Linked DNA regions of Homo sapiens. Changing the gene in region 3 together with the main gene of any one other region gives a genetic interaction. Each region holds a gene or a part of one and is shown on either strand. Other genes may lie near its edges.

Evidence for each region.
Region 1: changes in GHSR (region 3) and UCK2 together harm fitness less than expected from each alone (positive genetic interaction), as found in Homo sapiens cells (one large-scale study listed by BioGRID).
Region 2: changes in GHSR (region 3) and KSR1 together harm fitness more than expected from each alone (negative genetic interaction), as found in Homo sapiens cells (one large-scale study listed by BioGRID).
Region 4: changes in GHSR (region 3) and CLK3 together harm fitness less than expected from each alone (positive genetic interaction), as found in Homo sapiens cells (one large-scale study listed by BioGRID).

What each region holds. Positions count from the first base shown.
Region 1 is NC_000001.11:165,909,822-165,912,441, forward strand, and holds the end of UCK2 (uridine-cytidine kinase 2), read left to right. Parts: 3' UTR 1-1,797; downstream 1,798-2,620. UniProt on the Homo sapiens protein: Phosphorylates uridine and cytidine to uridine monophosphate and cytidine monophosphate. Does not phosphorylate deoxyribonucleosides or purine ribonucleosides. Can use ATP or GTP as a phosphate donor.
Region 2 is NC_000017.11:27,462,915-27,466,781, forward strand, and holds part of KSR1 (kinase suppressor of Ras 1), read left to right. Parts: intron 1-3,867.
Region 3 is NC_000003.12:172,445,509-172,449,900, forward strand, and holds the start of GHSR (growth hormone secretagogue receptor type 1), read right to left. Parts: upstream 2,949-4,392; 5' UTR 2,906-2,948; coding exon 2,110-2,905; coding exon of another isoform or gene 2,036-2,109; exon of another isoform or gene 2,035-2,035; intron 1-2,034. UniProt on the Homo sapiens protein: Receptor for ghrelin, coupled to G-alpha-11 proteins. Stimulates growth hormone secretion. Also binds other growth hormone releasing peptides (GHRP) (e.g. Met-enkephalin and GHRP-6) as well as non-peptide, low molecular weight secretagogues (e.g.
Region 4 is NC_000015.10:74,625,619-74,628,418, forward strand, and holds part of CLK3 (dual specificity protein kinase CLK3), read left to right. Parts: intron 1-183; coding exon 184-350; intron 351-1,733; coding exon 1,734-1,828; intron 1,829-1,920; coding exon 1,921-2,050; intron 2,051-2,351; coding exon 2,352-2,434; intron 2,435-2,800. UniProt on the Homo sapiens protein: Dual specificity kinase acting on both serine/threonine and tyrosine-containing substrates. Phosphorylates serine- and arginine-rich (SR) proteins of the spliceosomal complex.

The DNA.
Region 1 (2,620 bases), on a different chromosome or scaffold from region 3:
GGCTGTGCTCAGGTGAAGCCCACCCGTGTCTGGGAGAGCCTTGGCTTTTCAGTGGGCAGCATGCTCAACTTTACTTGAAGCTCCCAGGTGCCAAACCATTTAGTGCCTTGGCTGTTTATCCCACTGCCTTGGAAGATGGACTCCTCTCATCTCTGAGCCTTTACCTAGCTGCTTCCTCATCTACCTGTGGTGTTGGGACCAAGCCTCCAATATCTCTGAATAGCCCACTCCTAGCTTGGAAACAGCTATAAGGGCTGCCCTGCCCCTTGTCAAATGATCACCAATTCTTGGTGGCTTGGCTGGGGACAATGAACAGTGTCTGCTGGGGTCTGTGACACACTGTTTCTGGAACAAGGAAGGGATGGAAGGCTCTACCCCTCCGTGGCAGCCCAGCATTTGGCCAACTCTGTATCTGAACTTGAGCTTTCTATGGAACAAACAATGGTCTTAGTTTTTTAAGAGCCTCTGGGTCTCTGATTCCATGGAGAGTCAGGAGTAGAATTAGTGGACCAGAAACCATGACATTTGCCATCTAGGTACTCTGCTGTTCAGGGTGGAGGCACAGATGAGCAGAGTGGGGTGATGTTGGTTGTATGTGCATAGAAGTCCCCTGGCTCCAGAGCCATCCAGTGGTGCTTGGTTCTCTCTTCCTGCCCAGGTATTGTGTGTGGACCAAGTGTTTAGGAAACAAGCATAGAAGCATTATGTCACAGGAAGGCCTGGCCTCTCACTCCTTCACACTAATGAGCCTTCTACTGACCCAAGTTTCTTTTTCTCGGGCAGCCTGGGACCACTATGAGCAGAGAGATGGGAGTCTGTGTAAGAAGGATGCAAGTATCCTTTGATTTGGAGTGGACAGAGCAGGTCCTTGCAAAGGCAGTGGGTTAAACAACGGGATGTCTGTGGGACAGGCCAGGGAAGGAGGGCAGAGACAGGGTCTCCAGTTCACCTTGCCGCAGAACTAGCCTAATCATCCCTGCTTCTGGTCTTGGCCACTTGGCAATCATGGGGAAGTTGACTCCCCGCCTCACTTGGGCTTGGAGCTGGATACTTGTGGCCACGCCCAGGATAGGTTGCCAGAGTTTCATTAGGCCGCTGGGTCGGGCTGGAGGCTTGTGTACACCTCGGAGCAGTCGGGCAGCAGGAGGGCCGGAAGCCTGGTTGGTTTGTATATGACCTCTCTTGCCCTTGTGCACTTTCCTTGATTTAGCAACCTTGACCTGCACTGGCCCTCACAGCTGTTGGAGGGAAGTAGCCTCTTGCAGGGAAATATTTTCCCCTGCCCTGGAATCTCCTATGTGCCTGTTAAAGATTCCAGGGCCAAGAACTCGGCAGGCTGAGGAGCAGCTAGGTAGGTGGGTTATGCGGTTCAGGACTGCTTCTGGAAGGGACTGCCTGTACTTCTGTACCACCGTTGCCCTTTACACTTTGCTCAGGGCGGGGTGGGGGAAGCATTCAAACAAAACAAGGAAGGGAACTGTCTGGCAAAGCATAAGTGGATGCATCCAGAGCTCAGTCCCCTTTAATCTTTTGTCTCTGGGCGTTCTGCTGCCTTCCTCATACCGGGGACTGGCATTCCAGGTCAGCTTGGCTGTGGTCTTAGAGGCAGGGAGTGCCTACCCAGTCCTGCCTCAGGAGCAGGGTGAGTAGCTAAATACAGACTTAGGCTTTTTTTTCCCCCCTTTTAAGATGCTTGCTCCTCTCCCTTTTCTTTTTACCACCCTACCTTTATTGTTAGTGGTTACAAAGTGACCACATATTATGTACTTTGCTGTAAATAAAGACAGACAAAAAGGCTCTCGCCTTCTGTGTGATGCTTGGCCCAGAGCAGCGACCGAATCCTGGCTGTGTGGCCCAAGTGGCTCAGGAAGGGCCATGCTGTGCATGTGTGGTGTAGATGTCACTGGGCCTGCTGTCACGAAGCCTCATGATCCTGGGGTGTATGTGGGGCAGACCCCAGGCCTCACCTGGGCTCAGATACTGGTTCAGGTTAGTGGACTTGCAGTTCTTGTCAAGTGGGAAGCCCGGGCCAGGGTTTCTGGGAGCCTTTGGTTCTTAGGACAACCTGGCGCTATGTTCCCCTGATTCCATCCAGTTTACCTGGCCTCTGCCCCATTGCCTTCCTTAGGCTGGTGACCCAGCCCCTTCCTTGCTCAAACAAACCCTTTTAAAGTAAACTTTTTTGAGGGAGATGGGTGGAAGATGAGGAAAGTTTACATTATAACAACACAAACAGTTCCATGTTGTCCACACGCAGTGAATGGATGTATGTGTGTGTCTATCCCTGTTTTTCAAAGACCTAGGCTACCCACCAAAGATAGATGATTGGCTTTTGTCAGGGTGTGGTGGCTCATGCCTATAATCCCAGCACTTTGAGAGGCCAGGGCAGGAGGACTGCTTGAGGCCAGGAGTTTGAGACCAGCCTGGGCAAGAGGGTGAAACCCCATCTCTACTAAACAAAAATTAGCTAGGTGTGGTGGCACATGCCTGTAATCCTAGCTACTCGGGAAGCTGAAGCACGAGAATCACTTGAACGCAGGAGGCAGAAATTGCAGTGAGCTGAGATCACACCGCTGCACACCACTGCAACAGAGCAAGACTGTCTCAAAAAAAAAAAGGA
Region 2 (3,867 bases), on a different chromosome or scaffold from region 3:
TATGCATCAGCACTATTAGTGGCTGCATTGTGTGGTCATACCACAAATTCATCTAACCGGTTTCCCTGTGTGGGCCATTCAGGCTGTTTCCAAGTCTTGCTTTTATAAATGGTGCTGCAACGAGTATCTTCCTACAAGTGAGATTTGCTGGGTCAAAGTATATGAATACATTTAATATCTGTCCTCGTCTTTAATATCTTTATGGCATCATAACTCCCCCTCTCCTAAGCAGGAATGGCAGCCTTCATACATTTATCCATTTGCCACTGCATCTGTAATCACACTGACGGCCAAGAGTTTAAAAGGAGGCTGGGCCTGGGTGCGGTGGCTCATGCCTGTAATCCCAGCACCTTGAGAGGCTGAGGCTGGTGGATAGCTTGAGTCTAGGAGTTCGAAACCAGCCTGGGCAACATGGTAAACCCCGTCTCTACAAGAAATAGAAAATTAGCCATGCATGGTGGCACGCTCCTGTAGTTCTAGCTACTCAGGAGGCTGAGGTGGAGGTTGCAGTGACCTGAGATTGCATCATTGCACTCCAGCCTGGATGACAGAGAAAAAAAAAAAAAAAAAGAGGCTGGACATGGTCCTCTGGCTGAGATTCTGGGATAAGTGTCAGGAACTATGGCTTCTAGTTTTGTGGTTGCTTGTGTCTGAGGTTCTGGGCTATGTGTCAGGCATTGTGGCTTCTAGTTTTTGTGGTTACCTGCAGCAAAGGGGGGCCCCCTGGGCTGACCAATTAGAAGAAGGCCTTTTCCTTGCTCCAAGATAGCGGAGGGAGGGGCTGGATTTCAGGTCTCCCTGTCCAGAGACTGATCAGCTTTGGTAGTACATAATCATATGGTGAGGTCTTGATCACTTGAGGCTCATGAAAGTCACTTTAACTGCATTCTTGGTTGCATCCCTAACTACAAATACTGATCACAGTGCTATTTGGGGTGCCTGGCTTTGGGGATGATTTAGTAGAGTTGTGGGTTCCTAGGGCTACAAAGGGTCTTGGAATTTCCATGTGGTCCAGCCCTCTCATCTTGCAGGTGAGGAAACTGAAGGCCTGAGGGAGAACTGACTTGCCAGGAACCCCTGTTAAGCAGAATTAACAAAGGGTGGTTATTAAAGGAGCACTGAGTTGGGAGTCAGACCTGGAGGCCCACACCCTTGATTAAGACATTATACCACCTTGAGTCTGGCCTGTTGACTGAGGGTGAGCCACTCCATCCTCCTCTGATTGTGGGGTGTTGACCTCAAGGGGTTTCCTGCAGGAAGAAGCAAATGGGTTTGCTTTCCTAGCTCTGTCCCAGTGCCTTAGGGGCCCTGAGGACTGGAGAGATTCTTGGAGCGCCATCTGGGGTATGTCACGGGTGGACCTTTTTTGAAGGTCAGTCTGCTCAGTGGGCTGGCTCAGCCCGAATGAACTGTCTTGAATCTTTGGAGTTGTCTGTTTACTTTTAAGGGCTTCTCATCCTTGCACCAAAAGATCCCCTGGAAATTAGGTGGGAAATCCTTAACTTTTATGGGGCCTTGTGTTTGTCTTAAAAGTTCATGCGCATGGCCAGGTGTGGTGGCTCACACCTGTAATCCTATCCTGGATCCCTTGAGTCAAGGAGTTTGAGACCAATGTGAACAACATAGTGAGACCCTGTCTCTACAAAAAATAAAATATTAGCCAGGGGTGGTTGTGCACACCTGTTGTCCCAGCTACTACAGTGGCTGAGGCTGGAGGAGCACTTGAGCCTGCACTGAGCTGTGATCTCACCAGTGTACTCCAGCCTGGGCCACAGAGCAAGAACTTGACTCAAAAAAAAAAAAAACCAGCAAGAAAAATCCTTGCAGATTTTGCATTCTGTGCCACTATCCATTGGTTTTCATGTCAAGATAATGTAAAAATTCTTTACAATTGCTTCCAGAAGGAGTAGCCTTTTAATCTAGTGCACAGGTGTCCAGTCTTTTGGCTTCTCAGGGCCACATTGGAAGAAGAATGCTCCTGGGCCACAGATAAAATACACTAATGCTAACAATAGCTGATGAGCTTAAAAAAAAAAAAAAAGGTTTGTGCATAATTTTCATGATACCCACCACCACAGATAGGCGGAAAAGTCCTTGTAGTCAAAGGGTTGGACACGGCTGATCTAGTGTCTTGTCCGTTTTGGCTTTCTCCCTGATTCCAGAATGCAGGTAGAGATGTAGAGACGTGCTCTCAGGACAGCTGTTGAGATAAAAAAATTTGTTGTCATTTATTCCCAGGCACAGCTGTTTGTCATTTGCATTGAAAAAGTCTCCATTCAAACTGCTGTCACATATAAAATCTATTTATGTAAGTCTGTATTTTTCTGTTGTCTTGGCCTTGGTGGGCAGTAGTGTGTTTTAACTGAGCAAACTGTCTTTCCAAATAATGAAGCTGAAGTCAGCCTACCTGCTTGCCATTTTTCTTCCCCTTCCATTTTTCTAATCTCCGGATAATTGTAAGAATGAATTAAGATTTGTGTTTAAGGCCGGGCACAGTGTCTTAGGCCTATAATCCCAGCACTTTGGGAGGCAGAGACGGACGTATCGCTTGAGCTCAGGAGTTCCAGACCAGCCTGGGCGACATACTGAGACTCTGTCTTGTATAATTAAATTAAAATTTAAAAAAAGAAGAGATAAAGACCCGTGTTTAAAATTTTTAAAAAAGGGGGGAAAGTGTAATGCAAAATGTGGACTATGCCAGCTATGATTGGGAAAAATAATTTTTCATACAGCATTATCTATAGATTTGTATTAGCAGCATACTGGTCATAAGCGTTTTGCTTTCCGCAAATATGATGTGGTAAGCTACTTTAAAGTGTGGTGGGGCTTTCTTCCGCATGGCTCCTTGAGGGGTTGAGTCCCAATTTATCCAATTAATTTGGGTTTAGTTTTGATATGGATAAGGGAGACCAGCTTCATTCATGGTGCACACACAGTTTTGCCAATAAGGAAAAAAAAAAGCCACCTGAATGTTCCTACTCATTAGGAGCTATCTGGAGAGCTCCTACCCCACTCCCACCAAGGCCTGGGCCCTTAAAAAGGCTCAGTGCAGCCTTTCTGTATCTCACTGTATTCTGCAAGATGCTCCTGTGAAGAAAGTTGTGCTGCATCAGCCATCTCCCTCCTGAAGATCCCTGCGGATGAGGATTTGTGTTTTAAAGGTTCTGAGAAGTACTGCAACAACAGTTCTCAAACTTATTTGTCCAGGGGATCTTTTCTTCCACTGAACGTAGTTGGGGAGACATGGCCTTAAGCCTTGAGCAGAGAAAGAGACAAGAAACTGTTGGCTCACTTACAACCAAGTGTTGTGTTTAAGTTTTAGGTTTTTATGAAACTGAGGTGCTGTTTGAGTTTCCAAATAAAATTGGGTGGTTGAAGAGAGGCTGGTATCCCTGTAGACTTATCCAGCCATGAGAAATTGCCTTTTTTACAAAGGGAAATAGGGTGTCTCCTGGGCATCACATTAGCACTTAAATACATGTATCACTGAATCCTTCTAACAAGAAGAGGAAACTTGCCGAGAGAGGTGTGCCCGCCTGCCTGCCTGCCTGCCTGGAGTTTGCACTTCCTGCCTCCTCCTGGCCCTGGGTGCATTTAGTTGGTGTTAAGGGCATGGTCTGCTCAGTGTCTACCAGGAACCTCATGATCCCCCTGATGGGCAGAAAACAATCCAAGAGAAATGCAGATGGCTGTGGGTGCATTTGAGCTTGGGCTGCAGGGGGTTTGGGGGAGAGGGCTGGGCTACAGATGAAGAATGCTTTTCAAAATAAAAAAGGAAATGCTGGCTCTGAATGGAAAGGAAAGGAAGCAGCTTCCTGTTTCTCGTGGTGGCTTTTTGAAAGGAGGAGCTCTTTCTGGCCTCTTGGC
Region 3 (4,392 bases):
ACAGCAAATCACATTCTATTTTTAAGACTTTGTTTTTGTTTCATGGTCTATGACCATTGACTTCAGAGAAACATTGTGTCCTGCTCTTCCTGTTCCAACATTTTAACAAAGATTCAGTCTGTCTGGACCAACAGTTCAACAATTTTTACTGAGCTCCCCAGTCATTTCTATTTAACAACTATCTGAGTGATTTTGTACTGAGTTGACACATTGACTCAACTGACTAGACCATTTATTCACAATAGTCCAGCAGTTTTTATGTGTTAGACACAACAGACACACTTACGAGGTAAAGTGGTTGTACTCAACCATAGCTGTGTATCCGAGTCTCCTGGGGCACTTTTTAAAACAATGCAGATTCCTTGGATGTAGTATAGACTCAGTCAATTTAAATCTCTAAGAGGGCGATCAGGACATATGTTTTATCTTCTCTTTTTTTTTTTTAAGTTTCACAGAGGATTGAATATACAGTTAGGATTAAGAATCACTGAGATGAATGATTCTATGCCACTTACAATAGACATAAGTAAGGCTATTATTAAACCAACTCATATAAATTATCATCCATCCAAGTCTTCATTTTGCCTATGTAAGATAATTTTTAATGATGTCTAAATGTTTAGATTGTTTTAAATTCAGAAATCAGGGAAAAATAATAACAAATAATTTTTTAGTCGTTGTAACACTTTAGTGATCCCCTTCAAATTGTCAAGGAAGAAGAAAGTTAACATTGGTGTTGAGACACCAATGAAGAAATTAATGGCTTGAAAATAAAATTGGAGGAAATTATTAAACTTATCCTTAAAACTAAGTTGTATAGTAGCAACTTAACTGCCACAGTAACAATGTGACTCTCGTAGGTGAGAGCTTAGGATCCCTTGGAGGACACTAGCAGGTTTATAACCTATGAGTCATATCACGAGAATCACCGGTCCAGAAAATAAAATCTTTGACATTCCTTGAATAAACTCTATCACTTTAATATGGAGGATCCAGGAACTGTAAAATTGGAAATATGAAATCATCCTGGAATGGCTTCTAAGAAGCCTTAAAATATGCCATTAAGTATGAAGTCTTGACTATAATATCTAAATAATAAAATATACAGACCTTGGTTTTGAAAATGCAAGTAGAGTTAATATTTTGCTGGGCTGTAACCATATTTATTATTACTTCACTTGTACCAAACACATATACTTAAAGAAGCTGAATTTGTGCAATAAACATTCAGCAAATCCAGTTATGACATTGTGCCCAGATGTTCCTGAAGGGTCATTTGGGGAAGTAGTGAATTCTGTTGGTTTCCACAAAGTCTCCTTTCCTCCTGTTGGAGCTTTGTTTAATCTAGTTTATCCTTACCTTATCCTAGTCTATCCTACCTGAAGAGGCAGGTAATCATAAAAACAAATGAGACTTCACTGATTTGTCACTGACTTCCTTACAAAGCTGTATGAACAGCAGCAGGGTAAACAGAATTGATGCAATTATCTGAAAAAATGCAGGGCAGAAAACAAATCACAATATTGAAAGAAAAATGAATAATCTCTAAGAGGATTATCCAAATTGATCATGTCTTTGGTTGAATTTACCGCTGAACGCTTTCTAGATCCAAACCCTGCTTTTCTTAATGTAACTTAGATATTCACAAATCCTACTTGAGGCAGGAAGTCAGTCCTCACTTTTAACGCTTAAAGACCACAATGGACTTTTATAAGATATCTCGATTTTTAAAGTGGAGTTTCTGGGCTGATATAAAATTTATTTTAGGGAAATACAAATATGGGACATTTTTGCATGAAAGAGAGAAAGGAGAGACAGGAAGAAAGAGACACAAAGAGATAGAGACGGTAAGAAAGACACTGACAAAGTAAAGGGGGAGGAGAGAGAGAGACAGAGACAGAGAGAAAGATTGAGAGATCAAAAACATCACTCAAGAAAGCAAGAGGAGAGAATAATTGAGAGAAACGCAGAGAGACAGAGGCCCAGAGAAACTGAAGAAAGAGGTAGCGACTCAGGGGGAAATAGAGATGGAGACTCAGAGAGAAGGGAGAAGGCACAGGGAGAGGATAGGACCCGCGAGAGAAAGCCTGAGCGCGCGCTGAGACCCACCCAGCATTTTCACGGTTTGCTTGTGGTTCTGGTCCCTGAGCGAGGCACCCACGACAGCATCGCCGCGCCTCCTCCGCCACAGCTTCCTGCCGATGAGACTGTAGAGGACCGTGAGACAGAAGACAGGAAGGAAGAAGAAGATGCTGGACACCCACACCATGACCGTGAGCAGTCCAGAGCGCACCGCAAACTCGGTGGGGCGGCACTCGTTGGTGTCCCAAGGGTCGGTGCCGTTCTCGTGCTCCACCCCGACTAGCACGAAGATGGGCCCGGCGCTGCAGAAGGCCACGGCCCAGATGACGAAGATGACCAGCTTCACCCGCCCCTTGGTGACCACCACCTTGGCCCGGAGTGGGAAGCAGATGGCGAAGTAGCGCTCGACGCTCAGCGCTGTGATGGTGAGCACCGTGGCGTAGGTGCAGCTCTCACTGACGAATTGGAAGAGTTTGCAGAGGAGGTCGCCGAAGTTCCAGGGCCGGTACTGCCAGAGGCGAACGAGGTCCAGGGGCATGCAGAGGAAGATGAGCAGATCGGAGAAGGCCATGCTGGACAGGTAGAGGTTGGTGGTGGTGCGCAGCTCGCGGAAGCGCGACACCACCAGCATGGTGAGCAGGTTGCCAGCGATGCCCACCACGAAGAGTGCCACGCAGGTGGCTGTGACGCCCGCCAGCAGCGGCGCGGGGAAGAGCTGCAGCAGCTCGTCGCCCAGCGAGTCGTTGCCGGGGGAAGCATCCCAGTCCAGGTCGGCCAGTGTGAGGTTGAACCCCGGCTCTTCGCTGGGCGTCGCGTTCCACATGCTGCCGGCTCAGCTGAACAGGCTCTGGGACGTGACTGCGCTGGGAGGCTGGACCGAGCTGGCTCCCGAGGAGGTCCGCTTAGGCGCGGGAGGGTGCGAGGGAGGAGCGGGTGCAGACGCGTAGGGAGGATGCTTGGAGAAGAAAGAGAGGGAGGTGAGAGGCAGAAGCCGAGGAAGAAGGTGAGATGGGGACAAGGAAGAGGGAGAGAGACTGGTGGTCAGTGGGTGAGAGAGTGACCCACTGCTTTCTCTGACACCTCCCCTTTCCCCCACCAACTCCCCCAAAGTTTCTCCCAACACATCCTCCGGCCGGCGCCCACACGCATACCTGTCACCAGCCCTGCCTCGCATTTGCGTTCTCGATCCAGTTCCATCTCGCACTTCCCAAAGCGTCGCAGCGAGTGGGGACCGCAGGGACCAGGCGCCGCGAAGCGGGAGCGTGAGGCGCTCTCTCCGAAGCCCTGGGCGACGCTGGACTAGTGTGCCCCGGAAGGACAGGTCACACCCGGGGGTGGGGGTGAAGACGACGGTGGCGGTGGGGAGGACACCTTTAGCAGCTGGGACCTGATTTCTTCCTCCACAAGGCTGCAGCTGGCTATGGCCCTGGTGGAAAGAAAAAGCGAGCTTGACCAACTCGACTTGGGAAGGGGGATAGAGAGAGAAAAGAAGGACCTTGTGTTTGTATTCATACCGGTGAGCACCAAAGAATAGTCTCACGCAGTTATAGGACCCAGGTTCAGCGATGTGACTACTTGTCCAAGGTCACACAGCGAGCTGGGGACTCGGGGACCAGTGTCGGATCTCCCACCCGGTTGGGACTTCTGAGCGCACAGGGGCAAGATATGTGAGTAAACCCTGTCCAGAATCCCAGTCCTTTGTATCACTCGGTAGTGGTAGAGAGTCTGCTGTAGGGTATATTACTTTTGCTTGATGCAAACCTGGTGGCGGGGTGCCGAGGTTGGTCAGGGAGGGAACAGGAGAAAGGAAAAAGGCAGGGTTGGAGGTGTGTGGAGGCGGCAAGTGAAGAAGAGGCTGTGAGGCTGGCGCGTCGAGAGTGTGCAGGAAACATTTTTTGAGGCATAACTGAGAGAGATCAGCCATTTAGTAGCCGTATTCCCTTGGGCAAGGTCTTCAACCTCCTGAGCATTACGTCTTTTTCTTTGAATTGCAATGATTTGTGCGGACCACTGGGGGTGATATCAAGTGTCAGGGACCACCGGAGGCACTCAATAAATAGAAGACGCGTTGCTGTTGAGAAGTAGAAGCTGTGCCGGTGGGAACAGGTCAAAGGCCACCCCTACACTAGCAAGGTGACCCTCTGGACGCGGTCTGTGCGTCTCCTGCTCAGAGCCAGAAATCAGCACCCGAAGGCATGAGACTGCCAGTTGCCAGCGAATTCACAAATCCGACCGGCCCCTCCCGGCCCACCGACCTCGGGACCGCCCCAGGAACATATTCAGCACTGTGGCCAGCGCCACATCCATCCT
Region 4 (2,800 bases), on a different chromosome or scaffold from region 3:
GTATTGGGTGATGGCTGGTGGGGAGAGGTGCTCTTGCTCTGATTTCTCTTGCACTGTGTGTATCTGCATTCTGGTGTGTGACCCGGTGGCCTAGGAGAGAGTTGGGAACTGTCTTCATCTGAGAGAGGGGGTGAGGCAGGCCCCCAGCACACAGCCTGAGCCCTGCCCATCCTCCTCCTCCAGCCTGTGTGTCTTGATGTCTGACTGGTTCAACTTCCACGGTCACATGTGCATCGCCTTTGAGCTCCTGGGCAAGAACACCTTTGAGTTCCTGAAGGAGAATAACTTCCAGCCTTACCCCCTACCACATGTCCGGCACATGGCCTACCAGCTCTGCCACGCCCTTAGATGTAAGTGTCCACCCTCAAAAGAAGCATGGGCAGCCACATGCCTGCAGCCAAGTCATCTGGTTACTTGTTGTCCCCATTCATTCCAGCACGTTACTAACCATTCTCCTGGGCCTGAGGGACACCAGATCCCCTTTGGCGGAAAGGCCTGTCTTTGGGTGGGAATCTCAGTGTGAGGATGGAAAGGCTAGGGCTCCCTCCAGGGACCTCCTGGACCAGCCTCTCTACCCCCAGGCACTCAGGAAGAAAACAGAAACGAACTGCTCTGGAATTGGCCTAACCACCAACCCTGCCTCCCTGCTTCATGCATGGGATAAAAAGGTAGAAGCCTGACCTGACAGATAGCACCACAGGTCCTGCCCACATGGAGACCCTCGGTCTAACCCTGACTTGTCATCTCCCTGCCAGCCTGGAAAAGCATTATTTGGCAGTGCCAGGGCTCAGCGCAGTAGGATTTGCAATGGTTGCAGCAGTACAGAAAGGCTCCTTGGTGAAGTTGGTAGGCGTTGAGCTAGAATCGCTCAAGGTCACCCCGCATCGCTCCCCTACCCTGAGCACTGCTACTGTGATAGGCTGCAGGCCACTGGGGTGGGAAGCCCCACATGGATGAGAAGACAGGTGTCTTCCTCCTCCCACAGGATCTGCAAGATGGGACAGGGACAAGGATTCCAAGCAAGGGGAACAGCTTGGTGAGGCCTGGAGCCTGTTAACGGGCTGAGAATTGGCTCCAGTGGAGTAGACTGCCACTGGGGAGTGGTGGGCCACATAGTTGTGAGGGTCTTGAGTGCCAGATGGGATCCTTGAGCTGAAAAGTGACTACTAGCAAGAAGCCACTGTCAGAAGGGGCTGGAGGGGAAAGGCTTGCCTGCTTATGACTAGCAATGAGAGGCGGGGCTGTCTTCCTGGGTATGCGACCTGTGCACTCAGTCGCACAGGACCCTGTGCTTGATTTAATGTCCTTTTGCCACCACCTTAATATTCTTAGTAACTTGAACAGGGGACCTGCATTTTCATTTTGCAAAGGGCCCTGCAAATTATGTAGCTGGTGCAGGGAAGAGGGAACCACCTCGAGGCTGTTGCTGTAGCTCTGCTGAGAGACAGGTGAGGAGGCCTGGTCTCTGCAGAGGAGAGGTGGAGGGAGGTTTTTCGAATGGCAAATTTCTTTCCTACCCCCCTGCTAAAGTATCAGAACCCTCCAAGGCCTCAAGTACAGAGAACCCTTGAGAGGGAGGCCAGCACAGAGGCAGGCTGTAGTCCAGCTCCCTGCTGAGGTGGGGGTGTGAGGACCTCTGGCAGTTGCTGGCATTGGAAGAGGGGTCTGGCCTAGAGCTGGCAGGAGAGCCAGCTTCTCAGTGCCTACTTCCCCTTCTTTCCCTGCTACCTTAGTTCTGCATGAGAATCAGCTGACCCATACAGACTTGAAACCAGAGAACATCCTGTTTGTGAATTCTGAGTTTGAAACCCTCTACAATGAGCACAAGGTATTGGTGGGGGTAAGGGTGAGGCCCTGTTTCAGGGGTGGGTTACCCGCTGGTGCAGACTCCTGACCTGGCAGGCCTGCCTTGCCTTTCAGAGCTGTGAGGAGAAGTCAGTGAAGAACACCAGCATCCGAGTGGCTGACTTTGGCAGTGCCACATTTGACCATGAGCACCACACCACCATTGTGGCCACCCGTCACTATCGCCCGCCTGAGGTGATCCTTGGTGAGTGACTGTATGGCCTGTGACCTTGTCATACTGGACTGTTGTTGGGAGGGTATGAGCAGAGGCAGTGGCATGCCTGTCATTCTCTGCCACCCAGGGCAGGCAGAGTTTCTCAGACCAAGGGGCCAGTGTCATGAGACACAGGTGACTGACCTGGCTTTATCTGTCAGCCTTACTGAGAGAGGGCCTCGTACTGGGATTTGGGCAAGAGTCCTGCCAGCCGGTGTGGTGGCTGCCTTGTGACTTCCAGGCTGGAAGCATAAGGCCGGATCTCACAGCCTCTCCCCATCTTGGCTTGCAGAGCTGGGCTGGGCACAGCCCTGTGACGTCTGGAGCATTGGCTGCATTCTCTTTGAGTACTACCGGGGCTTCACACTCTTCCAGGTACAGCCACCCTGCATTGGTCCCCTACCCTGAGTACTGCTACTGTGATAGGCTGCAGGCCACTGGGGTGGGAAGCCCCACATGGATGAGAAGACAGGTGTCTTCCTCCTCCCACTAATCATCATGTGAGATTCAGACCCTTTAAGGATGTAGATGCTAAAGGGAAGGCAGAGGTCAGGGTAGCTGGAACACTCAGAGGAGTCTTATGCTAGGCCATCGAGGATGGAGGATGGGGTAGGAGGTGACCTGACCTTCTAGATAAGGGGCACAGATGACTAAAGGCATCGGGATGGGCTGGGACAGGGCATGTTCTGGGCAGGGAGTGAAGAGCTAACCAGAGAGAAATGTAGTCACAGCCCAGTCCAC